Linked DNA regions of Homo sapiens. The protein of the gene in region 3 purifies or fractionates together with the protein of the main gene of each other region. This does not show direct contact. Each region holds a gene or a part of one and is shown on either strand. Other genes may lie near its edges.

Region 1 (12,468 bases), on a different chromosome or scaffold from region 3:
TGTAGAAATACCCCAGCCTTTAAATGAAGGAGGAACAATATAAAGAGAATTTTAAAAAAAGAGGGACACCCAGATGTTAAATGCCTCCTGATGGAAGTACATAACATCTCCTATTAAGTATTCTTGACAAACAAAATTGAATCTGAATTTGACTACTGATGCAACTATCAATTCCCAGGAAATATAAAGAACCAGAGAAAAATGTTAAAATACACCAGGGGGATGTAGTCAGCAAAATCTAGACCATCATATACCTTAGAAGCCAAACAAAACTGTTTCTTCAATGAATGCACTGCAATAATAACAGAAAGAACTCCATAGACAGTAACTGGTATGAGACTCACCCTCCCACTGAAAGCAACAAGCAAACTAAACAAAAGATATTTAAAAACTGTTTTTCATATAGAGAACAACAGGCAGCACACAATTGTGACCCCTGAGAGAAAAGAAACAAATAGGTGAGCTCTACAACCTCCCAGCTTTCTACCTGGCGGTACTTTCTTGACTTCAGTGCAGGGATAGGGAACCCAAGCAGAGTACACCAATCTTGCAGAGGAGGCAGAGATTAAAGCTCGGGGAGACTGAGGCATCTGAAATATGCAGGAAAAGGTACCAGAAAGATGGATACTATGGGCTGGGCACAGTGGCTCACACCTGTAATCCCAGCACTTTGGAAGGCCGAGGCCGGTGGATCACGAGGTCAGGAGTTCGAGACCAGCCTGGCCAAGATGATGAAACCCTGTCTCTACTGAAAAATACAAAAATTAGCCGGGTGTGGTGGCGGGTGCCTGTAATCCCAGCTACTTGGGAGGCTAAGGCAGGAGAATCGCTTGAACCCGGGAGGTGGAGGTTGCAATGAGCCAAGATGGCACCGCAGCACTCTAGCCTGGGCAACAGAGCAAGACTCTATCTCAAAAAAAAAAAAAAAAAAAAAAAAGATGGACACTAGGAACAAGTAGAGTTCCAGAAATATGCAAGGAGGTCTCTCCTTCAGCCTCAGCCTGAATTCTAAACAGCTCCTGTGTAGGGTAAGATTCCTTGAGGATGGGCAAAGAATAACTAAAGGAAAAAAGAACAACTGTAAGCTAAACAATTCCCAGAGTTGTCACAGGGCTGCAAGACATTTAAATTCCAGCTAGTCAGAGTGAACTGACACACAAAAAACTATGGCCAATAAGCAGTGAAAAAGTGCTCAATATCATTAATCATCAGGAATTACAATTAAAACCAGAAAGGCATACCCACTACAATGGCTAAAATTTAAGACTGATAATACCAAGTGTTAGGGAAGGTGTGGTCAAATGGAAGTTTCATTAACTGCTGATGGAAGTATAAAATGGTACAGTCACTTTTGGGAATTATTGGGTGATGGTCCCACGGATTCTCTGCTTTTGTATATTTGAAATTTTCCAGGATAAAATGCTAAAATAAATTAAAGTATAACTTCAAATATTTAAAGGATTACTATGTAAAAAGAAAACTAGATTCTATAGAGGAAATCATCTGGAGGAAAATTTGGAGTCAGTATAAGAATGAAATAGGCAACAAAGGAATGTATAGCCTTGCAAGGTAGGCGGCTTACACTAGGAACCGGTGACGCACAGGTCCCAAAATGGCAGGGTTAGAGTACAGGGAATTGCTGTGACTACTGAGAAGTTGGACTAGTAGCTTCTAAGGTCTCTTCCAACCCTAAGATTCCACTAACTATTCATCAATTATTGATCTACGAGTCTGACCTCTGGTATAGTTTTCCCAATAAAGTCAGCACCCCATTACTCCAAAACCCTATGAAACAATTATCTATATGAACTACTTGATACTTTGCATAAACTATTTCCTATATTCTCCACTTTCTCCAATTTTCACATGTATTTGGTAAACTTTTTTTGAAGACTTTCAAAAGTCAGAATTACACTTTATACCTCTTGGAATCTTGTATTCCTAGCACAATTTCTGGTACATATTTAGCCATCAAAATGCTCTTTTGACAATCCCTCTCAAGTCGGCATCTTATAACACTGCGCCCTTATATCTTGCCATTCATGTCTGTCATTCCCTGTTATCCCCTGATCACAGATCGTATCCTACACCACTCCTATATGCCCCAACCCAGGCCTAGAAGAGGGCTCTGTGCGTATCTAGAAATACAATGAATAAAGAATTCCTTCTACAACTGGGGCTGTTAAATTTTTCAAGTGATAATTTCACTCTGAAAACCAAATTCTGAATTCTGAGACTGTCTTAATCCCTGAAAACTTCATTATTCCAACTGCAAAGATAATACACACCTTCACCCAGGTGGCTATCACCAGAACAAACATGAATAATACTGAAAAATGGTTTGGTTTTCCTACTTGTTTTCCATCCTGGTGGTCTTTCTCCTGAAACCCTCAGGTATTCAATGTCTTTATATGCCCTCTGACCATCCAAATGAGAATTAGGTGAGGGATGAGATCTTACAAAATGCCAGTTGCTACACCAGACATTTTACATTATCATGTCATTTAATTCTTACCAACAATTGGAGTATGTATTATCTAAATTTTTCAGATGAGAAAGTTGAGGTTCAAAGTTTAGTAATTTGCCCTAAACTTCTAATCGATAGCTTTGGGATTTGAAATAAAATCATCTTGGCTTGAAACCCATGGATTTTAACAGAAAAACAACAAGAACGCTCTTTCCTATTCGAGTCTTGAAATAACAGAACCTAAAGGAAATGGCTTTGGTGAGAAGCATACTTTCTCTGTAGCCCTAAGGGCAACCTGGCCTCCAACTTCAAGAGCTTGCTTAGTCCTCTAATTTACCAAGAAAAAAAGTCCAATTCCACCGAGTACCACAAGGGGGAGCTAAGTCCTAAAAAGCCTAGATAAGCTTCTAGACATTAAATGTCTCATTTGGAGCATGGCTCCCTTTAGAAAGATCTGAATAAATATTCTGCCATAAGTGACTCTTTCTAAGAAACAGACCTGACAATCCCTTTCCTGCTTAAAATCTTCCAAGGATCTCTGCCAACAATGGTCTGACCACTCACTATGGTGTACAATTTCCTTTCTGACTTTCCCTGAGTCCCTCCAACAGACCTTCTCCCTCCTAACTCCATACTTTTTTATTTTTATTTTTTCTGAGGCAGGGTCTTGCTCTGTCGCTCAGGCTGGAATGCAGTGGCACGATCTCAGCTAATTGCAACCTCTGCCTCCCGGGCTCAAGCTATTCTCCTGCCTCAGCCTCCCAAGTAGATGGGATTACAGGTGTGCACCACCCTGCCCAGCTAATTTTAACTCCACACTTTAACAACACCAACTGGCCGGGAATGGTGGCTCACGCCTGTAATCCCAGCACTTTGGGAGGCCAAGGTGGGCAGCTCCCATGGGCTCAGGAGTTCGAGACCAACCTGGGCAACATCACAAAACCCCACCTCTACAAAAAATAGCCAGGCATGGTGGTGCACACTTGTGATCCCAGCTACTCAGGAGACTGAAGCAGGAGGATCGCCTGAGCCCAGGAGGCAGAGGTTGCAGTGAGCTGAGATCACGCCAATGCACTCCTGCCTGGGCAACAGAGCAAGACCCTGTCTCAATTTAAAAAAAAAAGAAAAAGAAAAAACACCAACTACCCACGCTTCCCTGGCTTCCCCAAATAACCTTTTCTTCATGCCTCCATTTCTCTGAATGTGTTATTTCTTCTGCCTGACTGCATGCTGCCCGCCCCCCTGCCCACATCCTTCCCCTAGCCCTTCTATTTGACAACTCCAAGTCAAGCTCCCATCTCTTTCGAATCTGCTTAAAGCATATCTCAGCGAATTTCTGGCCTTTCCTATCACTCTCCCTCCACGATGAACCAATTTATGCCACAGATTGTTCTACCATCAGGTAAATACTTCTCTTCCTGCCCATTATCATGTTACATTTCAAGTGACTGTCTTTCTCTCCTGGCTAAACTGAAAGGTCCCTGAAAGGAAGAACCACGTTTGACAGGTGTGCTTGTGCCCAGCTCCAGCATGCAGCAAAGCCTCCTCATGTGCTGAACTAAGAGCCCATTAAAGCCACACACCTGTGGCTCATTTCAGGGTCTCTCTTCAAAGGATCAGGAGTCAGGTTCATAAAGACATTTTAAGTTCTTCACCTCATGCTCAAAATCAACTTAAAAACTGTAATAATCAACATTTTAGTTAAAAAAAAACTATGTTAAACTTACCGACTTAGTTAAATAAAACATGAATGAATATATTAGAAGGATTGCGTTTTCCAAAGGTGTGACACTTGCCGGCTCTTCGGCGGCTGTCTCTGGTTGCTTGTTTGCATCAATAGCATCCATAGGAGTGTCTTCTGTTGTAACTGGCCCTGGAATTGGGAGGAAAGATAGACATTTTGTGCTTTAGAATAAGAATTCTCTTTAAAAAATACTTATTGAGTATCCACTAAATATTAGGCACTGTGCCTGGAAAGTAAACGTTCTCATCTCTCACTGGATGTTTACTGTGCACTGTGGTGAAATACTCTTTGTGTCGGTCTATCCTGGACTATTACACACTACAGTGTTCTGTACTGTCTCCTATGAGCTTATGCTATAAACATACTTGGACCCCTTCACTGTATTTTAAGAAGTTTTACTTACCATGTCCAGATAGCAAATCAAAAAAAAGAACTGCATTGCATTGTATTTTATTTGGAAAGAGAGGGGTAAAGTAGAGGAAAAACAGAATTTGTGAGTTTTAGAGCAGTGGTTCTCCAACTGTAATTTGCATCAGGTCAGTCTTTCCTGGAGGGCTTGTTAAACACAGATTGCCGGTTCCACCCCCAGAGTTTCTGATGCTGCTGGGCTGGTTGAAAACTACTGTTTTAGAGCATAAGGCCTTTTAAGAATAATATTTTAGATTGAAATAATTTACACAAGATAGTGACAGCCAAACATTGGTTTGTAGGTTAGTTATAGTCTCTGGTGTCTTTCCTATTTTTGATCTCCATCTGTCTTGACGCCTGCTTTTCTCTCAATTAGCTCTGGGATCCTTTTTTCCTTTGAATTTAACAAGTCTCTAGCTCCTGCCTTTGACAATGAATCTCCTAGAAGGCCTTCTTTATGATTTCTCCACTTTGTAGAAAAAAATTAGCAGGCTTTACCTGGGTCCAGGTCTTTCTCAGTATTTGGCTTCTGTGACACTTCTGAGGCATGAGTGTCCCCAATCACACGTTGGTCCAAGTGGGTGGGTTCTTCAGGAACCTGCACATTAAGTTCTGCTGTCTTCTCTCGTGAGAAATTATCTTCATGCAGTGGTTGCATCTCTAGGGTGAGAAGAATACACTGGGCTAGCACAGCTTGATGACACTACCTGTTAGGCTAATCCCACTGACCACACCAGGGCACCTCAACATTGACCTCCATGCATGGGCATCCCATGGAGCACAACTGGGCAGGGAAATAAGAGTTTCAGTTTCTTTTATTCCATTTAAAGGATGACTAATCTACATAATAAAATCTACAGAGGAGTATTTCATAAATAAATACATTTATGGTAGGGACTTCAGTAACATCTTTCCTTGGCAAATCAGCCTACACCCACACAAATAAATGTGCAAATGAGAATTCCACTCAAGAGCAGAAATGTGAAACATCTATTCTGCAGAGAAGTAACATGAACTCTTGCATACCCTAGCATGCCTTTCTCACAGAACTAGTACAGACAGGGACATTCCACGCCAAGGCAGCTTGCTGAGATGTCTTTCGAATACTTTCAAAGTACCTCTAAGAGTCAAACAAAGTGAAGCCATCTCCTCTCCTAAGAGGCTTAGGGGACAGTCCAATGTGATCCACAGCAAAGGTGAATTTCCTTGTAGCCTCATATTTTACCCTGAAAATTCATCTGAATATTGCCTTCTTATCCAAAATATATGTTTTAATTAAATGCAAAAAAGTTCTCCTCCCCCATTTCTTAGGAAAAATTAGCACTCTGGAGTAATACGTTTTCCTGTGGCTTCCTGTCCCCTTGGTACTCTCAATTCAGATACATCTGTCTGAAAAGCCTGGATATACCAGGTGCGGTAGCTCACACCTGTAATCCCAGTACTTTGGGAGGCCAAAGTAGGAGGGTCACTTGAGGCCAAGAGTTCAAGATCAACCTGGGCAACATACCAAGACCCTGTCTCTACAATAAATAAAAATTATTTGGGCACAGTGATGCATGCCTGTAGTCCTAGCCACTTAGGAGGCTGAGATGGGAGGTTCGCTTGGGCCTAGGAGTTGGAGGCTGCAATGAGTTATGATCATGCCACTGTACTCCAGCCTGGGTGACAGGGTGAGAGCCTGTCTTAAGAAAAAAAAAAAGAAAAGAAAAAAAGAAAGAGGAAGGAAGGAAGGAAGGGCAGGTGGGCAAAGGGAAAGAAAAGAAAAGAAAAGAAAGAGAAAAGCCTGGATGCAGAGAATAGAACAAGGAACTAGGAATCAGAATGCTTATGTCAGGATATTGGCTCGGGGTTAATTCAACTGAATGGCTTCCACGCATCAAGCACTGCATTCGAAGGCATCCCTGTCCCAATCTTGATTAATCTGCATGCAAGAACCTTACGGCCCAGGAGGGTTTAACTGGAGTAAGTGCTCCCAAGAAACAGGAAGAACAAGCCATCCACAAAAGATAAAATTGGGGAGAACGTAGGAATTTAGCCAAGGCATTGATCTAAAAGTTATACCAGTCAATCCATGGTTACAGAGCAGTTATCTGACGACTGAAAAATTGTGTTCAATAAAACCCTTTCATAATTTTACATGACATTTGTATTTTGTATATTACTTTCTGGTTTATATCTTTCTCTTTAGCTTTTTACAAAGTTTCCTTTTGAAAATGCTAACCAGTCTCAACTATTCTAAGGGAAACGGCAAGAAATTCTTCTCCATGCTCCAGCCTAAAAGAAAGATGGCAGGAAGGAACATGTGGACCTCCCTGTGTTGTCCCTCTCCTTTAGGCACATTGGAAACTGAACAGAGCTTCACAAGATAGGAGGCACCTCAGCGACCCACCCACCTGCTTCTCCAGCCCTGTTCTACAAGGCCATAGGCATCTCACCTTCCATTGCTCCACCCAAGCCTTCCTCTAGAGGTGGTGCCATCACCAGTGTGGCTGTCTCCTCTGCTGTGGAGTGCTTGTACCTGACAAAATAGATGAGGTCTTGAATGTCATCAAGCACTGCAGCCTCTTCAAATATGTTATTTTCGTTCATTCCCAGATCTCTATTTTCAGCCACACGAGTATCAAGCATTTTTTCTGCTATGCTCAGAATTTGTGACTCAGAAGCACGGAAGACCTTATCTAGGACTTTTTCCATATTATAGGGCAGGCTCTCCTGCTGCGCTGACTTCAGTTTTGATGACATTTCTTGTAGCAAGGCTTCCAGCTCATGGACATTAAAGTACTTCTGGAACCGCTGCAAAGACTGTTGTTCTTTAAAGAAGCTGCTTATGATAAGTAAGTCCTCCCTCTTGTCACTATGCCCTGGCTCTACACTTGTATGTGGAGTCCAGTGGAACGAGTCATCTTCAGGTTCTGCAGCAGCAGACCCCTGGCTTTCTGTGCCCATGTACTTCTCTGTGTTCTCATGGTCCTCTTTTGAGAGTTCTCCCTCAGGCTCCCCTGCAAGCCCTGAGGTCTTCAGATGTTCCTCAGGGTTGTCGTTCTTCAGATAATCAGAATCTTTATTCTGAAACACTTCACCTAATTCTGGAGTCTGAATTTTTATGCTGTCAGAAAAGTCACTTCGTTCAAATGGTCTCTGTGCTTTCTTATCTGCCAGAGGGCGTTCTTTTTCCACCATTGTATTTGGTTCCCTGCCTCCTGTGTTGACCCCTTTGGCAGCAGTCTCACTTGTTTTTTCGCTATCCAAAATCATACTAGTTTCTTGCTTGCTTTCTTCAATTTCTGGATCTGGATGAATGGTCCCTAAAACTGCTCTGTCAGGGACTTGCAGATTAACATCAAACTGCCTGCCCTGATTCCCAGGGTTTTTTTCTTTAGACCGTTTTGCATTTATAGCGTTTTCATCCTCTAGTAGTTCTTCAGAGGGATAATCATCCTCTTCTACTTTAGAAAGGAAAGCTGGTCCTCCTGTGCTGTCAGTTTGGTCTGTCTGTCCTACCTCTGTGCCCTGCATTGCCTTGTGATGAAAAAACTCTTCATCCAAGGAGTCCTCTTTGGCTTCTCCCTCAGAGAGCCTTATCTTCTCACTCATTTGCTTACTGGCTGTGGCAGCCACATCTCTTTCTTGTTGCCAGGGAAGATTTCTTCCCAGAATGGGAACCTCGTCTTCCAGTTCTCTGGGCAAATCAATCTCATCTGGAGAGGAGAATCTAGGTTGGTTTTGAGTTTTAAGAACTAATTCCTCTTTCAATTCCTCACGTTGATGCTCCACTGAAAGCGTGTGCAGTTTGGCCCCATTTACCAAAGCGTCTCCCTCCACACTGTCTCTGGATGCGTTAGGGTGGTCATCTCCCATGAGTGGTGCACTACCCAGGGATTCCTGTTGAATCTTTCTGTCATTCATTTGATTCCCTGCAGCTTTCTGTGCAGATTCACTCTCTGAGCCACCTTCCAAAATCTGCTCTCCAGGCTTTTCTTCGTGGAGCATTCCTTTTGAGATATGAATAGCTGCTCCTTTTAGGTCATTTTCTGTATCATCATAAGCTGATTTTAATGTGTCTTTACCCTTTTCAGCAGCTGGCATAGAGTTGAGGTTATTGCTGTGAACAGAACTGTGCACAGTCATGCCTTCTTGATTTTCATCCTCTAATTCTGTCTTATCTTGTACCAGGCCCCTCTTGGATTCCTGAACTCCCCTCCCTTTTCCTTTAATGTGATGTTCTGCGTTTACTTCTTTGTCATTATTTGTTTTAGGAATGTCTACAATAAAAAGACCATCATCTACATTGTCAGGGTCACTATAATCTGTTGCTGACTGTGGTTTCCCCTGTTTGCTATCTGGGACTAATGCATCATCATCATCTTCTTTTTCTTCCTCTGAACTAGAGCTCTCTAAATCCATCGTATCTCTTGTTTCTTCACCTCCTGTGACAATAGAGAAGATAGTGTCCCCCCAGGTTGTTAGTATATTTTTATCATCATTTTTGATGCCAGGGGGCACAGTTAGCTGAACCTTGTCCTCTTCATTTGAATTCTGCTCTTTATCTGTTGGATATTTCTCAACGCCAGACTTTGCTGGAGTTTTCATATCTTCCCCATCTGTAAAGGTAAGTAATGGCAACTCATCAAAGTCTTCTTGGTTCTCCTCATCTTCCTTTCCAACTGCATAATACTCAGTATCCAATTCCTCATCAAAATCATCTTCTAATGAAGTAACGAGTCTGGTTGTCTCATCATCAGATACAAGTGCATCAGCTGTTGAGCCAAATTTGGTTTTCAAGTCTAGAGTCATTTCTTTTTTCAAAAGTTTATAGGCATCAATCTTATCCTGTTCATTTGAGACCTGAGAACTATTGCTGGTTTTGTTGTTTTCACTTTCTGGCACTTTTAGTTTATCTTGCAGCATTTCTTCAAAAGATTCAAATGAAGCCTGCTCTCCCTGAGCATGATTTGCTTGGCTGTTTGCATGGGAGTGGTGCTTCTGAGTTGTAAACTGTTCCTGAAGATCCTCAGTGTTTTCTGAGAATACACTATCACTTTCCTCTGAGTTGGCTTCTACTGGTTCAGGTTCAGGTTCCCTTTCCTTAGATAATTCAGGGTTTTTTTCCATATCCTGTAAAGTTTTTTCTACAGCTTTCTCAGAATCTGTAGCTGCAGAATTGTACAGTTCCAAAAACCCTAAAAGTTCTTCTACATTATAATTATGAAAATCATCTCTTCCTCCATCAAAACAAACAAAATCCGTCTCCTGTAAGAAAAAGAAAAACATTAGTCTGTCAATAGCCAAGTGTCACCAGAGCAAAGTCTTATCCACGTTAATGATTGAGATAATCTCGAATTCACGTTTGGCTCTAGAGGAGCTTTTGCGTCAACACTGGGCACTGACTGTTCTTGGGCAGTGGGTGGATAGGAGGCTGGAACCCACTTTCCCATCTGAGTAATACTCCTGGCTTCCCTTCATTCTCTCTTCCCCAGGGGAAGAATGATTCATGTGGCTGGTGAGTTTGCTCAGTCCCAATCCTGTTTTCTGTTTGGGACCTGCTGGAGAGGAAACACATATTCTGTTCCTCCATGCTGTCCGTTTTACAGGGACAGTCCCACCTGGGGAGACCCCTATTGGATAGCTCTGTCTGTGACTGGATAAGTCCATCTTAGTTTAGACCGCAATGTTAGAAAGCCCATTATTTCTGCATACTCCAAACAGCTTTATCAGTAAATAATGGGGTCATTTTGATCTCCTATTTGCCCAACTCCTGGGTCTCTCAATTTTGTTTTGAGCACAGGTGGGGAAAAGTAAGGTGTCATTTATTGGGTTCCCCAACTCCCATCATCTATGCCTGATGTTCTGGGAATTCACCTTATAACCCATCCAGGAGGAGCTGAAAGACCATCAGCTTCTCTACATTGTGCCCTCTATGTCATACTTCTCTGCTCACCCAGTCAGAAACAGGCAGAATCACCTGGCTGTCAGGCTCTCAGTCTACATGGATTTGGGGCTCATATTTTCCTTGGACTGGGAAAGAAATCAGCTTCAGAAGGAACTTACTGAGATACAGGTGCATGAGATATAAAAATGTAAGAGAACAAAGAATGGTGTAAAGGAGGCTCCCCATTTTCATACTGCCACAAGAACAACTTGAAAACAAGATTCAGTAAGGTAGGTACCTAACTCCAAATAAGGATTCTAGCCAGTCACTAAGATCTGCTTTCAGGACTGTCAAGTAAATCTGTATTTTTCCCTTCCTCCACCAGTAAGCAAATTGACATACAAGGAGCCATAAAATGATGGAAAAGTTAAAAAACCAACAAAGATAACTTTCTTCCCCTAACTAAACATTCACAATCTTCTGGTGAGAACTGTCCTGTGTACTGGAGATGAATGACTTCCCTCTTTCCATCATGCACACTTCTGAGCCAATTTTTTTAATATTAAGGGAATCATGCAGTGGGAACTACAATTAGTATACAGGTCAGGTCTCTGTGACCAATGAATTGCTGTCTCACACTCAAATCCCGGGCAGTCTCTTCATCAGGAGTGAAGCCAAACAGGCAATACGATTGACTATATAACCCCTGAGAGCGTCGAGAAATTTTAAGCATAGCAATAGCTCTGTGACTTCACTCTGCCAATCTCTTCTAAGAACTGCCCTAGCCCAGCAGCTTGCACGCTCTGCAGCAACTCCAAAGAGCTACTCAAAGACTTTTGAATGAAAGCAGACATCAATTACTATAAATTCTAAAACTCACAAAACAATCAGATGGGGGGCTGGGCATGGTGTTTTTTATATATATATATGAAAGGCAGCCTGTAATCCTAGCACTTTGGAAGGCCAAGGCAGATGGATCACTTGAGGTCAGGAGTTTGAGACCAGCCTGGCCAACACGGTGAAACCTCGTTCCTACTAAAAACACAAAAAAATTGGCTGGGTGTGGTGGCAGGCGCCTGTAATCCCAGCTACTCCAGAGGCTGAGGCAGGAGAATTGCTTGAACCTGGGAGGCGGAGGCTGCAGTGAGCTGGTATCGCACCACTGCACTCCAGCCTGGGCGGCAGAGAGAGACTCTGTCTCAAAAAAATAATAATCAGATGGAATGCAGATTCTAGAACACAAAATCCTTCTAGTCACGAAGCCATTGTGCACTATAGATAAATGCTCTACAGAATGTGTAGTTAGCGCCTTACAGATATGAGACTGGACCTCACCTGAAACTCTCTGGTTCCCTTTTCCAAATCTATAACTATAATCGCTTAAATCACTACAGAGTCAATAATAAGAAAACCTTTGTAAGTTTGCATTTCTGGCTCAGTATAAAATTAGAGCTTAATTAATTTAACCTGATTTCTATATCCTTAAAATGTCTAACAGCTATCCAATAAGTAGTTTTCAAATTTCTCCTTTTGCTTGTGAAATGAAATTTTTTGCCTTCTAACATTAATAAGTAAATATAAAACTACTGAACTCTTAATTTTTCACATATAAAGCAGCAAAGAAAAGCCTTGTATAAGAGTACACGGCCTTGGCCGGGCGCAGTGGCTCACGCATGTAATCCCAGCACTTTGGGAGGCTGAGGCGGGCGGATCATGAGGTCAGGAGATCGAGACCATCCTAACACAATGAAACCCCATCTCTACTAAAAATACAAAAAATTAGCCAGGCGTGGTGGTGGGCGCCTATAGTCCCAGCTACTTGGGAGGCTGAGGCAGGAGAATGGCGTGAACCCAGGAAGCAGAGCGTGCAGTGAGCCGAGATCACGCCACTCCACTCCAGCCTGGGTGACAGAGCGAGACTCCGACTCAAAAAAAAAAAAGAGTACATAGCCTTATATAAGAACATCTATTTCCATATAT
Region 2 (12,468 bases), on a different chromosome or scaffold from region 3:
GATGTGCCCTCACCTGCAGTAGTTGTGGTTCCCCAGGCCCAGCCTGATGGCGTCTGGCCTCCGCCCGCTGTAGGGCTTCTGGGCCAACGCGCTGCTGTTCCAGTTGGTGCACTCGGCGCCACTCTCCGCTGTGCTCCACGTGCCCCTGTAGCTGATGCCCTGGTCCTCGTAGCACGTGGCCCTGGTATCTGACAGAGAGCAGGGCATGGATGCCTCACATGGGAGTCCCCTTTCATTCAGCCCTCAGGAGGCTCCCCTCTCTGCCCCGTCCTCCCCCAGGCCTGATGCAGGCTGGCTCGGAAGCCACAGGCTGGGTGGCAAGGGTGCCAGCCTGGATTCAGGGTCACACCTAGGCTCTGCTTGCTGTGTGGCACTGTGCTTCCTGACCCATGGCAGAAGCGCCTTCCCTGTCCCTGGCCCCCACCCCTGGCCCTGCCATCGCACCCTGCCTTTCCTTCCGGGGGCGGGGGAGACTGGAGAGGTGGGATTTCAGCTCGTTTCACGTGCTCTCACCTACTCACCTATTTCACAGCACTTCCCAGCAAATCCTTCGGGGCACTGGCACACGAAATCTGAGAAGTACAGGGCCTGCTGGCAGGTGCCCCCGTTGAAACACCTTGGCTCGCTGCAACCTGTCAAGTATAAAAAAGGAAGCCCCTAATGACAGCCTCCTTCTGTGTGCTCAGGCCATGGTTCCAGGAGCCCTGTCTACCACAATCCACACACACTCAAGTCCTGCAGCGTGGAACACGCGTATACCAGTTCTGCATCCTACAAATACTGTTTTCATCCTGCCTTTGGTTGAAAAAAATCCATACATAAGTGGACCCTGCAGGTCAGACAAGTGTTGTTCAAGGGTCCCCTGTATTTTCAAAGCAGCTCCAAGGATGATGTGAGTTAAAATATTAAGAATGTGCTCTATGTGCCAGGCGCTGTTGTACAGTCTACAAAAATTAGCTAATTTAATCCTCACAGCAAACCATGAAGTGTGTACTGTTATTCCCACCTCTTTATAGATGAGGAAACTGAGGCAAGCGGGCATTTGCCCAAGGTCACTTGGTCTTGCTCCCTTTTCTGCTTGTACCTTCACCTCCGCCTAAGGCCGAACAGGCCTGGAGGCTCCTTTTGAAGATTTGAACTTTCCGGGGACCATGAAAGACAGGGTTCATGACTGGACCCCTGAACTCGAAGTCTCAGTTTGAAGTCGATTTGTACTGGGCTTTTCTGTGTTTTTGTTTTTGTTTGTGTTGTTTTGTTTTGTTTTAGAGGTGAGGGCTTGCCCTGTCACTGAGGTTGAAATGCAGTGGCACAATCGTAGATTACTGCAGCCTCCAACTCCTGGGCTCAAGTGATCCTTCTGCCTCAACCTCCCAAGTAGTTGGGACTACATACCAGGTCTGGCTAATTTTTTTATTTTTTGTAGAGACAGGGGACTTGCTATGTTTGCCCAGATTGGTCTTGAACTCCCGGGCTCCAGCGACCCTCCCACCTTGGCCTCCTAAAGTGCTGGGATCACAGGCATGCACCACCTCCCAGCCTCAGTACATACTTTTGACAGGCACTGAGTGGCACTGTGCCCTGCCACTGTTGCACCAGCAATATTCCACCCGGTTGCTTCTGAGCACAGGGCGCAGCCATGACTGATGTTGCTGGTATATCATCTGCGTTTTTTCATCTCTGCAGATCACTATGAGAAAAGACAGGCCAGCCTCATCAGAGTATGACTCAAAATGAAATGCCTCACTACCCTTGCACCTACTGAGAAAACTCCCTCACTTGCTTTCTATAGACTCCATTGCATACTCCCTTATTGAAGAGACACAACTGGAAGACAACAAGATAATGAATACTGGCCAAACACGGTGACTGATGCTGGTAATCCCAGCACTTTGGGTGGCCGAGGTGGGTGAATCACTTGAGCTCAGGAGTTCGAGACCAGCCTGGCCAACATGGTGAAACCCTATCTCTACTAAAAATACAAAAATGAGCCAGGCATGGTGGCAGGTGCCTGTAATCCCAGCTACTCAGGAGGCTGAGGCAGGAGTATTGCTTGAACCCAGGAAGTGGGGGTTGCAGTGAGCCGAGATTGTACCACTGCACTCCAGCCTGGGCGACAGAGCAAGACTCCATCTCAAAATAAAATAAAATAAATTTGCATTTCTTTTCTGAGTGCCATTGAGTATCTTCTCATATGATTTATTTATTTATTATTTATTTATTATTATTATTTTTGAAACAAAGTCTCACTCTGTCGCCCAGGCTGGAGTGAAGTGGCACAATCTCGGCTCACTGCAACCTCCACCTCCTGGGTTCAAGTGATTCTCCTGCCTCAGCCTCCCGAGTAGCTGGGATTACAGGTGCCCGATACCATGCCCGGCTAATTTTTGTATTTTTGGTAGGGACGGGGTTTCACCATATTGGACAGGCTGGTCTCGAACTCCTGATCTCAAGTGATCCACCCACCTCGGTCTCCCAAAGTGCTGGGGTTACAGGCATGAGCCACCGTGCCCAGCCTAATTTTTTCTTTTCTTTTCTTTTTCTTTTTTTTTTTCGAGGGTCTCTGTCACCCAGGCTGGAGTCCAATGGTGCTGTCTTGGCTCACTGCAACCTCTGCCTCCCAGGCTCAAGCAGTCCTCCTGCGTCAACCTCCCAAGTAGCTGGGACTACAGGTGCACACCACCACACCCAGCTAATTTTTAAATTTTTTTGTAGAGGCGGGGTGGGGTGGGGGAGGCAGAGGTGTCTCACTATGTTGCCCATGCTGGTCTTGAACTCCTGGGCTAAAGCCATCCTCCTGGATCCGCCTCCTAAAGTGCTGGAGTTACAGATGTGAGCCATTGCACCTGGACTTTTTCTCATTGTAATTCACCAAAAAATATATATATGCATAACTGTCTACCAGAGTTTTTTATCCACATAAGTATTACCACACAGAAATGATGCATTTTTGGCCCCAAAGAAAATTGACATTTTAGACTTTGCAGAAAATGTGCTACTTCTCCAAGTATTTTTGGCATAATGAAAATAGTTGAAGTACTCCCATTAATATTTTCATGCCATCTTTCTGTTTTCAAGCCAGAATGCCAACTTAAAAAACAACAACTTTACTTTCAATTAATTAAAGAAGTAGCACGTGCCCACTGTAAGTCAGACCCTTGCTGCTTCTGAGGTCACTGAGGCCAGGATAACCTGGTAGGAAGCAGGATGCCATCCAACAACGAAGGCATTAAGAGTCCAGGTGTGACTCGCTCTGGGGAGTGAGTCACCCTTTTTAACACCTTCACAAAGGGTATTGCAGAGTCTTCCAGACTCGAAGGAACTGGGTCGTGAAGGAGGGAAATCGAGGGCCTAAGTTGGTAGTTTTGGACCTGAAGCTGGGCCTCGCATTCCTCAGCCTTCTAGAGTCAACTCTAGATGTGGACTTAGAGACCCCACCATGTCGAGGGGTTGCCTGGGTGGGACATCCCAGTTGGGACATCCCGGTTGGATCAACAGAGGGAAATGGATACACAGGGATGTTGTTACCAAAGCTGCCGGTGCACTGTGGTGGGATCACAGCCTAGGATGAGACCCAGAGCATGGGCCTGGCCTCGGCTGTGACTGCCCTGGCCGTGCTGCTGGCGGCTGTGTGACCCTGGGCAAGCCACTTGCTCTCTCCTGGGCTCTGCCTTTTGATCTGTATAACCAGGACCTTGGGCCAGTGGCCGCCCCCCCCAGCCCCCGCTAGGTTGTGATCCCTGACAGCCTGGCTCCTTGGGGGGGAACACCTGTTTCTGCTCCCCTCAGAATCAGAACCCGCCCAGTGGCCGCAGCTGATGGGAGAATGGTGCCGACACAGGCATCTCTGTAGAATCATGCTGCAATGGCACTGTCACACCGTAGGCAGGTGGTGGGTGGAAGAAGGCAGGTGGTGGGTGGGTGATGCACCCTGCACCCCGCCCTGCCTCCCTCCCTGATGACCCCATGCACCCCTCAGCTTCACCCGACCTTGGTAAGATCTGGCTCCTCTTCTGAATCGGGCATGGATTTCCTGCGAAGAAACCAGAGGTGGAGGAAGGATCAGCACATGCCAGGTGTACTAAGAGTAAAGGCGGCCAACCCAGAAGCCCATGTGAACCTGCCGGCCAGATACCTCTGCTCAGAGACCCCCTCGGGTAACTGGCCCAAGTGAAAGTCCATCTCCTGCCTTCTAGTCCAATTCTTCCTCTCCTTCCTGACTGGCTCTGTCCAGAAGAGCTTTCTGCTTGGTGGAAATGTTTTCTGTCTGTGCTGTCCACGACAGAAGCCACACAGGGCCACCGAGTGCTTTGAATGTGGCCAGTGGGACTGAGAAACAATTTTTAACTTTAATTATTTTAAATTTAAACAGTTGCACAAGGTAAGTGGCCACCATATTGGGCAATGGAGTTGCAGCTGGCTGTCTACTCCACGCAGTCACCTGGCTCTCCCCGCTGTAGGGTCCTGTGGGAGAGGTGTGGTTAGTTTGGACTTCCGTGAGGCCCTTTATTGCTAGGCATTTTCAGAGAGTGTGTGTAGCGCTTCCATCTCAGCTAGAGAGTAGGCACCATGAGGGCAGTTTGCCTCTGCTGTGGCTCATGGCACTTGCATTGCCTTTTTCTTTTTTTTTTTTTTTTTTTGAGACAGGATCTCAGTTTGTCACCCAGGCTGGAGTGCATTGGCGTAATCATATCTCACTGAAGTCCCAACCTCCTGAACTTAAGCGATCCTCCCGCCTCAGCCTCCTGAGTAGCTGGGACCACAGGTGCATACTAGTACACCCGGCTAATTTTTAAATTTTTTGTAGAGACAGCATCTCACTATATTGCCCAGACTGGTCTCCAACTCCTGGGCTCAAGCGATCCTCCCACCTCGGCCTCCCAAAGTGCTGAGATTACAGGTGTGAGTCACTGTGCCCTGTCCTGCATTGTCTTTTATAAATACAGTCCACTTTGTATATCTGCAGGTTCCATATCTGTGGATTCAACCAAAACAGAAAAATAAAAAATAATAATATAAGCTGGGCTTGTGGCTCACACCTGTAACCCCAGAGTTTTGGGAGGCCAAGGCTTAAGCCTAGGAGTTTGGTGCTGCAGTGAGCTATGATTGTGCCATTGCACTCCAGCCTGGGTGACAGAGTGAGACCCTGTTTCCAAAAAATATATAAATAAATAATACAACAATAAAAATAACACAAATTAAAAAATACCTTATAACAACCATTTACATAGCATTAACATTGTACTAGGTATTATAAGTAATTTAGAGATGATTTAAAGTATACAGGAGGGTGTGCATAGGATATGCAAACTCTACACCATTCTATATGAGGAACTTGAGTATCCCTGGATTTTGGTATCCTTGGGGGTCCTGGAACAAATACCCCATAGATATGAGGGACAACTGTACTTTATGGATTAATTTGAATACATTCTTTAAAAACAGCTGCAAAAAAAGGCAGTCACAGGCAGGGAGTGGCATGTTAATTCCGCTTACTCAGGTCAAAATAAGTGCCTAGGGCCCAGCTACACACTGGGCCCCCAAATACAGAGTTTGCTGTACAGAAGGGAGTGTGTGCTGTGTGCTCCACAGCAATGCCAGCCCCTCGTCCCTGTGCCTCTCTGCTCCCTGACAGCATTCCAACCTCCGTGGCCCAGATGGACACAGACCCCTGGAGCCTCCGGAAGCATCACAGCCTTGAGGGGCGGGACACAGGGATCCTGCACACCAACCTGGCTGGGCGAAACGAAGACTGCTCCACACAGCAGCAGCACACAGCAGAGCCCTCTCTTCATTGCATCCATGATTGCTTCACAGCGTCCCTTAAATTCTGGAAGGAGAGAAAAAACAGCTTGATCACGGGGTGCGAGAGGTCCATGATGGCAACAGAGGAGGATAAGCCGCAATGTTGTCCTGTCTGGCTTCCTCCAGTGCCAGCCCCGCGGCAGAAACGCCAGACATGCATCTAGAAGAGGATTCTAGAAACTACATATTTTTTATTGTTGCAAAATATATATAACACAAAATTTACCACCTTAACGATGTTCAGTGCACAGTTCAGTGGCATTAAGCACGTCATATTGCTGTGCGGCCGGCCGTCACCACCGCCCATCTCCAGAACTTCTCCATCACCCCTAACTGAAACTCTGTAGCCATTAAAGAATAACTCCCCATTCCCCTTTTCCCCAGCAGCCACGCTGCTACTTTCTGTCTGTATGAACCTGACTGCTCTACATACATCCTAGAAGTGGAATGAGACAGTGTTTCTTCTTTTGCGACTGGTTTGTTTCACTTTGCAAATGTCTTCAAGGTGCATCCATGCTGTAGCATGTCCTTTTTTTTTTTTTCTTTTAAGATGGAGTCTCGCTCTGTCGCCCAGGCTGGAGTGCAGTGGTGTGATCTCGGCTCACTACAAGCTCCGCCTCCCGGGTTCATGCCATTCTCATGTCTCAGCCTCCTGAGTAGCTGGGACTACAGGCGCCTGCCACCACGCCCGGCTAATTTTTGTATTTTTAGTAGAGACGGGGTTTCACCGTGTTAGCCAGGATGGTCTCGATCTCCTGACCTCGTGATCCGCTCGCCTTGGCCTCCCAAAGTGGTGGGATTACAGGCGTGAGCCACCGCGCCCCCGCTGCCTTTTTTTCTTTTTCCTTTCTTCTTTCTTCTTTCTTTTTTTTTTTTTTTTTTTTGAGACTAGGTCTCGCTCTGTCATCCAGACTGGAGTGCAGTGGCATGAACATGGTTCACTGCAGCCTTGACCCACCAGGCTCAAGAGATCCTCCTGCCTCAGCTTCCCAGAGCTGGGACTTCAGGCATGTGCCACTGTGCCTGGCTGAGAGAGAGAGAGAGAGAGAGAGAGAGTGTGTGTGTGTGTGTGTGTGTGTGTGTGTGTGTGTGTGTGTAGAGACAAGGTTTCTCTATGTTGTCCAGGCTAGTCTCGAACTCCTGGGCACAAATGATCCTCCTTCCTCAGCCTCCCAAAGTGCTGGGATCAGGCGTGAGCCACCGCGCCCAGCATTTTTCCTTCCTTTTTAAAGCTGAATAATACTCCACTGTGGGATAGAACACATTTTGTTTATCCATTCGTCTGTCAATGCTGGGAGATAATTTTGCCCAGAGATTTCTGTGGGCTGAAGGGCTAGACCATTTCTGAGACATCTTGGCAGCCCAGAGACCACAGCGCTCTGGCTTGGTTTCCTGGAAGGGAATTCCTGCCCTGGGCTTGACTAGATGGAGCCGCAGTCATGTCCTCTTGGACTTCTGCAGCGGAAGCCATTGGGATTTTATTGCCAGCACATCATAGAGCCAGCCTGCCTTAGACTGCTCAGGTTCCTCCACGCAGGATGGAGCCTACTCCCCTGCCTGAGGTTCTCCCCACAAAGCAGAGGCCCCCCAACCCAACCTCCACGCCCACCCCCCCCACCGCTCTGCCAGAACATCTGTCTCCTTTTTCATAGACTGCAGCAGATCCGGCAATGTGCATATTTGCAGGAAGGAGGGGAGGCAAATGATGTTTGGTCGGAAGACTCAGATCTTCCTGGACCCCAGAGCCCCAGTTTCCATCTGCCTCTCCTCTGTGATCCTGCCCTCGGCAGCTAAAAGTAGGTTAGTCGGCCGGGTGTTATTTTGTGGTCTGGCGGCCTGTTCCCTCCTTCATCCACAAAAATTAAAGCATGGCATTTCTTTCCCTGACTCATTTCCCTTCGGTCACAACAACTTCAGGTCCCACCCTCCCCCTCCCCCTCCCCCGAGCGTCCTAGGGGCCTGGAGGCACAGGGGCTTCCAGGCCTTGCCTCCCTGCCTGGGTCCGGCTCTGGATCTTTGATTGTTACTTCGAAACGAACTCCCCCGTGGGAGGTGCTGATCACCCTCCTTGCCTCGCTACATTTCATGCCTGACAGATTCTCCCCGGGCTCCTGTGTCAGGCAGAGGAGCTTAGGGAGAGGGCGAGGGAAACCTGCAGGAGGCTCCGGGTACAGCAATTCCAATGAGAAAACACAGCTCAGAGGGAGGCTCGCCAGCGTGGCATCCTCTCAGCCTCCCTGCACCTGTCCCATCAGGAGGGAACAGAAGTGCCATCTCCAGCCTTTGAGCCCGCAGTGCCCAAGGTCTCCCTGGAGTGCGCTCTTTGGGTGTCCCTTTCTCCCCGGGAGGAAGCAGCTGTGCTACTCCCTGGCTCCAGGCAGTTTCAGAAGAAAGGGAGTCAGGAGCCAAGGCCACCCAGAACAGGAGTGCGGGGTGGAATCTTCTCATCACAGAGACTTACTCCAGATCTTCTCTTTCTCAGCTTTCCTCAAATTTCCTGTTTCTCAAAACTGCCCAAAATTCCTCTTAAATTCCCCTTTTAAATTTTATCCCATTACTTAATCTTGTAAAAATAGCTCATGTGAAACTCCCTCCCCATTTCTCCTTGATGTTCATGTATCTCTAGGTTGCCCCACTCCTTACTCTTAAGCAAGACCCAAGGATGGTGAGAGCTCCCACCTCACAGGAATTGTGAATGAAACAGCAAACGAGTGAGTACAAGGAACTTGACCTTCTTCATCACGCTGTCCACACCACCCAGCCCTCTCGATAGGCTCCTGCACCCCAGCCTGGGATACAGTTTGGGTGTTTTTTCCAGATGCCCACCAAGTTACTTCTTTATTTCAAGAACTCAAAGTCCTTCCAAAAGGAATGCAATCCCAGATGCCGGGAAACTGCAATGTGAAGAGTGCAGTATGGACATGTTGGCATTGCCTGGGAACATCCCCCTTTCTGGATAACTAGGGGTGGGGGGACCAGATGGAGGAGAAGCACGACCTAGGGCTGGTCCACACATACCACCCGCTGCATCATGTTCAACCCTTTTGCAACTGAACGGTCTGAATAAGAGATAAGAGAGCAGGAGCATATTTTTGTCTTTGCTCCTGAGAGAGTTGGAGACTTGTCTCTTCTCTTCCTTGGCTTCCCTGGACCTTCCTGCGCCTTGAGCTGATTCAATGCAAGTGAATCTCACCCCAGCAGGGCGATAGCTCTGTCCGCATCACACAGAGGCGATTCGAGCAGCTGAAAAGGCCAAGTGGGGTAAGAGATGACAAAGAAATGAGTCATCCGGCCAGCAGAAAAACAGTGCAGTCTGAAAACAAGAAAGAGCGAAGAGAGGGAGGAAAAATGAGTCCTTGTTTCGCCTTCGCTGAAGAGGTGGGCGTCGAGGTCTGGGGCCAGTGACGGGATGCAGAGCAGAGTGAAAGCCAGAACAATGGACTCAGACTCGGGACCGCAGGGCGTGGCTGGGATGGACTTTGGGCCTCACCAAAGGGAGGTCCATGAGTGCTCTGGCGAGACCCGGGTGAGAGATGACATTGGCGGAAGGGATGGAAGAGGCTCATTTTTATAAATAGACTTCTAATTTTGTTCTGTGTTATCTCCCTTTTGCTATATTTAGTAGCTTCTCAGGATCATCAAAGAACTGAAAAAAAAAAAGGCAAATGAGAAGAAGGAAGGAAGGGGGTAGGAAGGGAGGCACAGAAGGATAGAAAAGGAAAAAAAAGAAAGGATGAAAGAAAGGAAGGCCCCAAGGTTGGCTGACTTTTGCTGGGCTGGAATCCAGAATCACTGTATGAGAGGAGAGGTGGAATGCTGGTCCCCAAGACCCCAAGGCCTAGCCCTGTCAGGCCACCCTAGCACACAAAGTTGATTTTTGCAGATTTGCAAAAGGTACCCTCTCTGTTGGATGAAGTTCAGCAGTCTCAGGGCATGGCAGGTTGACAAAGAATCTGTGCAAATTAGAAAAAACAGAGTCCGTGGGTTGGCTGATAGAGTGCAGCCCGGATCTGAAGGATGTGTGTGTAGGCACCTGTGTGTAGGACACAGCCAGCATATCTGTGCTCGGCCAGCCCTGTCTGCTTCCAACCTGCATGTGCATCCTGCAGAGCAGCTCTGACCTTCCTGCCTGGAAGCCGTGTTTGGTCTGTTGGCTGTAGCAACCAGAGTGACTCTGTTCCTGGGCCCTGCCAAACAACCTGTGAATGATGACTGTTCTTGGGGAAAACGGGAACAATAGTCTGGTAACCAGGAAGTGGGGTACCGTGCTGTAAGCTCACTTTCCTGGGAGATGTACTGTTTCCCAGAGCCAAGGATGCATGCCGTTTTGGCTGAGAAATTGATGATCATGCCAACCAGAAAGGTGGTGTTCATTTCTTTGGTGGCCACATGGGGAAATGATGGTCGATGGGCACCAGTGAGTAACTGATTCTGGATTGGGCACAGCCCCTGGAAAGGAGGAGGCCAGCTGGAGGAGGGACAGGGGAAAGTCAGTGGGGTGCTGTCTCAGTGCCTGTGTATTACATCCCCCTCTATCTGCCTCTACCGGCCCCATCTTCCCTCCATAAAAACCAGCTCCTAGGAAAGGAACTAATCAGCTTGTTCGCATAAGGTAAAAATGACTGAAAAATAATTAATGTGCTGTCCTTCCAAAAAGCATCTATATTTTGAGGCATAAAATCTCCTGCCAGCAATGCAAAACCAAGTGGGCTGGATGCTCCAAGGTTGCCTCCGGTGCTGACATCCTGCGGTTTCTGTTCTGTTGTGAGAACATACGACATGGGGAGTGTCACATGCAGTATAAACTGGGAAACTCTTACAAATGGCACTATAGTTCTATTGTTTAAATTATATAGGAAAGCGAGGCCACATGAGGTGGTTCACGCCTGTAACCCCAGCACTTTGGGAGGCCAGGGTGGGAGGATCACTTGAACCCAGGAGTTCGAGATCAGCCTGGGCAACACAGTGAGACTCTGTCTCTGTTTATTTTCATATAAAAACATTTTAAAAATAGATTATATGGCCAGGCACAGTGGCTCACACCTGTAATCCCAGCACTTTGGGAGGCCAAGGCTGGCAGATCTCTTGAGGTCAGGAGTTCAAAACAAGCCTGGCCAACATAGTGAAACCCCATCTCTACTAAAAATACAAAAAAATTAGCTGGGCATGGTGGCGGGCGCCTATAATCCCAGCTACTCAGGAGGCTGAGGCAGGAGAATCGCTTGAACCCGGGAGGCGGAAGTTGCAGTGAGCCAAGATTGCGCTACTGCAGCCTGGGCGACAGAGCAGGACTTCGTCTCAAAAAAGATTATACAGAAAAGTGACTTGCAATAAAGGAACTGTACACATGTAGTCAATCAATGAAATTGCAAACAGTGCAGTCGCTCCAGATGTTAGTGAACTGGAGAATTATAGTCTGTACTCTTGCCAGCAAGAAGAAGGCAGAAACGTGAGCAAGCTAGAGGAGGAGGGAAATTGCAAGGGAAAGACAAACGTAAATTGATACTATTATCAAATGTTGCACCATGTGCAAAGTTTGCTACATTTATCTTTGGTCAAGGAGATTCTTAGGTTATTGTTGCTTAGCAAAAGGTCTCTCTGAAAACCTGAGCAAGAGAAAGTCAGTCTTCAAGAGTACCAATACCCTAAAATGACTCATGGATTTAAAACAACACACTCTCCACTGCCACCCCCGCCACAACCACCATAGCCCAGATGAATGCCAACAATTAAGAAAAGAAACGGCCAGGATTCCTTGGACCAGCAAAGGCACGTTTCTAGAGCAGGACGAGAGCTGAAGTGAGATGCTGGGAGAGGAACTAGCCTTGGAAAGGGTGGCGTGCTCCCACGAAAGCAACCCTTTGTTCGGGACAGGAGCTTTGAGCCTGGTAGCTCTCATCCCACTTCTCCAGGCCCTGCATAGTACAGAGGCCATGATCTCAGAATAAAAACCACTTTCAAAAACTACCATCACATAAGTAATTCTTAACTTTTCGAAAAGGTGATTTTCTATAGGCTAAATGGTTATTTTCCCTCTCTTAACAGAACTGTTTATAACTAGGGGAGAAGAGAGGAAGAGTCTGTTTCTTATCTAATTTCACCAATTCCAATGAAGTGAAGAGTATAGCATCCTCTCAGAGCTGGGTGTGGTGGTTTGCACCTGTAGTCCTAGCTACTCAGGAGGCTGAGGCAGGAGCATCACTTGAGGCGAGGAGTTCAAGACCAGCCTAGGCAACATAGCAAGACCCCATGTCTTCAAAAGAATAGAATATTTTCCTGGCAGACCCTGCCCCCCACCCATCAGAGCAGAATTTTCTCCAAAACATCTTCCAAATGTAGGCATATGGCCTGTGTCTAAGCTATATGGAATTAAACTCAGAAAAAGCTACAGCAGGCATGTCCAGCTGTCATCTCCTCAATGCTCCACCCTCTGCCTGGTAATCCCGGTTATTTGGAGGAGTGGGGAATTTTGGTTGTGGGTCTAGGAAAACAGAAGTCTATCCCGCCTCCTCCCACAATCAAAACAGAAGAAACCCTGTCCTAATACACTTAGATCCTTCTGAAGCAAACACAAGGACCACCTGGTGAAAACTAAATCAGTCAGTGCAATAAAATGTTAACTGCAAAGTCTGCATCTAAACAAGCCCTGAAATCTAAAGTGAATCG
Region 3 (3,309 bases):
ACCTTAGTTACTTGGCTAAAGACTAGCTGGGTAGAATATCTTTTCTCTGTTGCTCACATATTTTCATTTTTAAAAAGTTGCAGATGAGAACACTATGTCAAGATAAAGCCTTTGGGAGGAACACATGTAAACATTCTCCTTGAGTCATGTGCTTCTCTCTCTTTCCTTCTCTCTGGTGCAAAATAAGTGTTTTATTTTAATCTATTACGGAGTCATTTCTTGCTGACTGACATCAGAAGAAAATAGCTCTAACCAGTCCTGATCACAGCATCTGCTTCCATGGTGCATCAAATCGCTTGGCAGAGGCATTGGCTGAATCACAGATCATCTAGTTCAATACCTTCATTTTACAAAGGAAAGAAAGAGGGACCCAGAAACAGGTCCATATTCTTACTTTCATGGGCCCTAGGCACGTTTAACCTTGTAGACTCCTCCTTCCTTCATGAAGATATATATGTTCTATGGCTGCATTGGTAGAAAGATGAATATATTCGTCTTTCAAAGTTGCATATCTAGCTTCAAAGTTATATGTCTAGCATATGGCAATAAGCAAAACACCTTCATGGGCCCTTACAGTACTGTCAGCCTTGGGCACTGTGTCTTCTGCATCTAGTGGATAAGTCATACCTTATATACCAGTGGGAACAAAATACTTGTCCAAGGTCTTCCAGTGTGGCAATGGCAGAGTCAGAAGCCTACCTTTCCTGAGTCTAGTCTCCAAGCCCTTTTTACTCTTCCTTCCATCTAAAACATCTGATGGGGACCAGGTAAACAGCATGCACTACAGCTACCCATGGGGGTTAAACAGAATATAAGCATGAACTTTGTCCCAGGGTGAAAAGGAAAATCGTAAATATCCCTGATCTTCCTTAGGCAGTTATTTTCTGTCACAGAAACAGAAAAGACTATATTCAGAGAATCCTGAATAGAGCTGATTTACAGTGTGAACTATGTTAACTAAATGCCTAATTGGATTTCTGTCTGTCTGCTATCTAATGTTTAAAAAAACCTAAAATTCATTTATTGATTAGTTGTTTAATATAATTCAGAGTAATGTGAATAGGTAATAATATTAATATGCAGTCTAAATACTGACTTTTCATCATTCCATAACCTGGACTGATGAAAAGTCAGTATTTAGACTGCATATTAATAAAATAAAATTCATTCCTGTATTCATTCCAAGAGTACTAATTGACACTTATGAAGGGACAGGCAATTCTAGGCCCTAGAGGGCCAAAGACAGAGGACTAACTCTATCTGACATTCTTAAGTCACCTTGTTTGTGTTCAATTAGTCAGATTTGTTTGTGGAAAAATAGTAGAAAGAGGAATAAAGTAGCATCCAGTCCAATTTCCCACTTTTAAGAGATGAAATCTGGAAAAATAAGTCTGTGAGAGCACAATACTCACTGAAATCAATATGGCCAAACCCAGTAATAAAAAGGTACATTATTATTGAAGGATTCATATAGCATGCAGATAAAAAACTCCTGCCTTCTTCCCACCACATACACTGCAAAGCAACAACAGCATAATAATTGTATTTAATATACTACTCTTTAAGGTAGAAAATGGACCTATTCTATATTTTAAATATACTTTTTAATGTTCCCTCACATTTGCTTTAAGAAGTTCCTAAGACACTCAGTTTCAGATTTCCCAAGTACACAGGCATGACAGAAAAACGCAGACCAATAAAAAATGTAACTTACCTTACACAAATACATACACACAAATTCAGGGTTTCCAACCGAGCGGGGGAAATCTTAACATTGTAGAAGTCTTCACTATATATGTGTCGAGTTTTTGTTTTTGTTTTTGTTTTTGTTTTGAGACAGAGTCTTGCTCTGTCACCCAGGCTGGAGTGCAGTGGTGCGATCTCAGCTCACTGCAACCTCCACCTCCCGGGTTCGTGCCATTCTCCTGCCTCAGCCTCCCGAGTAGCTGGGACTACAGGCACCTGCCACCACGACCGGCTAATTTTTTGTATTTTAAGTAGAGATGGGGTTTCACTGTGTTAGTCAGGATGGTCTTGATCTCCTGACCTTGTGATCTGCCCGCCTCGGCCTCCCAAAGTGCTGGGATTACAGGCATGAGCCACCACGCCCGGCCAAGTGTCGAGTCTTAAAAATTGTTCCTACACAGACACACTCAACCACACGTTCTCACATATATATGCTGTAACAACTGAGAACAGGTTACTGACTTAATCTAATTCATTCTATCTTCATTGTAAAACTTCCACTCCAGCTGAAGAGCCTGTTTCATTTCAATTCAAAGATTTCTCATATATCCACTAATTGTATGGCAAAACTGACTCATCTCCAGACTAAGATATTCAAGCTCAGGAAGTCAAATAATAGAAATGATTTTTTAAATGTGTAAGAGGTTATAAAGAAAAACTTTATGTGCTCCTTATTTAACCTCTATTAAGTAAAATCCTTTATAGACCTATCTCCATTTCTGCAGTAAAAGTGAGCTCTACAGTTAGCTTGTAAGGCTAACTAGTGAAATTCCTGGACTTGTTCTTAAAAATGCAAGTTTTAGTAATTAACAAAATGATGATGAAGATGTCCCTTTTCCCTACAACTACAGATGGAGGGAGATTTTTCTTTGCCATACAACTAGCTTAAAGGATTAATTTGATAAGTTGTTAAACTGAGAACTTTCACAAAAGTATCCATCTTGTTTTTGATATAAATGGAGATACATGTAGTTATTCATAACTGTCAGTAATTTGCTGTTTATCCTGTTTCTATATATCTGTCCTTGAGAGTATAATTTTAATAAATATTTCAAAGATTTTAGGAAATGTCATGTTCTGTTAAAAAACTTCCAAAAGTAATTTTGATGAACAGTTTTGATAACTTAGTACTAACTAGGACTAAGACTGCAATTGACTGCTCTACATTCCTGAACTTTATAAGCAGTAGTTGTTTCTCTCTGTCAAATCAGTGTCCCCTTTTCCCATTTGCATCATGGGAAAGTGAAACCTTATAATTCTGCTAAATTTATTATAACAAATACATTGAAATTCTCCATTTTATTAAATTAATAGAATGTTATGAATCAAAGCACCAAAAAAACTGATGCAATTTTGATGTCTCGTTCTGTACCACATTCTCCAGATCTTAATATATTCAGTTCCACATTATTGGTGCTAGTAGGAGACATAATGAAAACAGTTAAATGAAATCCACAGCGAGTATACTGATTAACCAGTACTGTCAAATTTCTCATACCTATTGAATTTTAACTACTGACAAAATGAGCAGTAACAATTCCATTTACCTGATTGTCCTTTGGC

What was found.
Region 1: the proteins of SERPINA10 (region 3) and MIA3 purify together in Homo sapiens (co-immunoprecipitation; 3 studies listed by BioGRID and IntAct, with this or other methods). This does not show direct contact.
Region 2: the proteins of SERPINA10 (region 3) and PLAT purify together in Homo sapiens (affinity purification with mass spectrometry; 2 studies listed by BioGRID and IntAct, with this or other methods). This does not show direct contact.

The regions. Positions count from the first base shown.
Region 1 is NC_000001.11:222,624,976-222,637,443, reverse strand, and holds part of MIA3 (transport and Golgi organization protein 1 homolog isoform 1 precursor), read right to left. Parts: intron 9,870-12,468; coding exon 7,055-9,869; intron 5,280-7,054; coding exon 5,118-5,279; intron 4,341-5,117; coding exon 4,195-4,340; intron 1-4,194.
Region 2 is NC_000008.11:42,187,385-42,199,852, forward strand, and holds part of PLAT (tissue-type plasminogen activator isoform 1 preproprotein), read right to left. Parts: intron 5,828-12,468; 5' UTR 5,802-5,827; coding exon 5,730-5,801; intron 4,031-5,729; coding exon 3,988-4,030; intron 1,688-3,987; coding exon 1,550-1,687; intron 633-1,549; coding exon 522-632; intron 189-521; coding exon 14-188; intron 1-13. UniProt on the Homo sapiens protein: Converts the abundant, but inactive, zymogen plasminogen to plasmin by hydrolyzing a single Arg-Val bond in plasminogen.
Region 3 is NC_000014.9:94,279,960-94,283,268, reverse strand, and holds the end of SERPINA10 (protein Z-dependent protease inhibitor precursor), read left to right. Parts: 3' UTR 1-2,809; downstream 2,810-3,309. UniProt on the Homo sapiens protein: Inhibits activity of the coagulation protease factor Xa in the presence of PROZ, calcium and phospholipids. Also inhibits factor XIa in the absence of cofactors.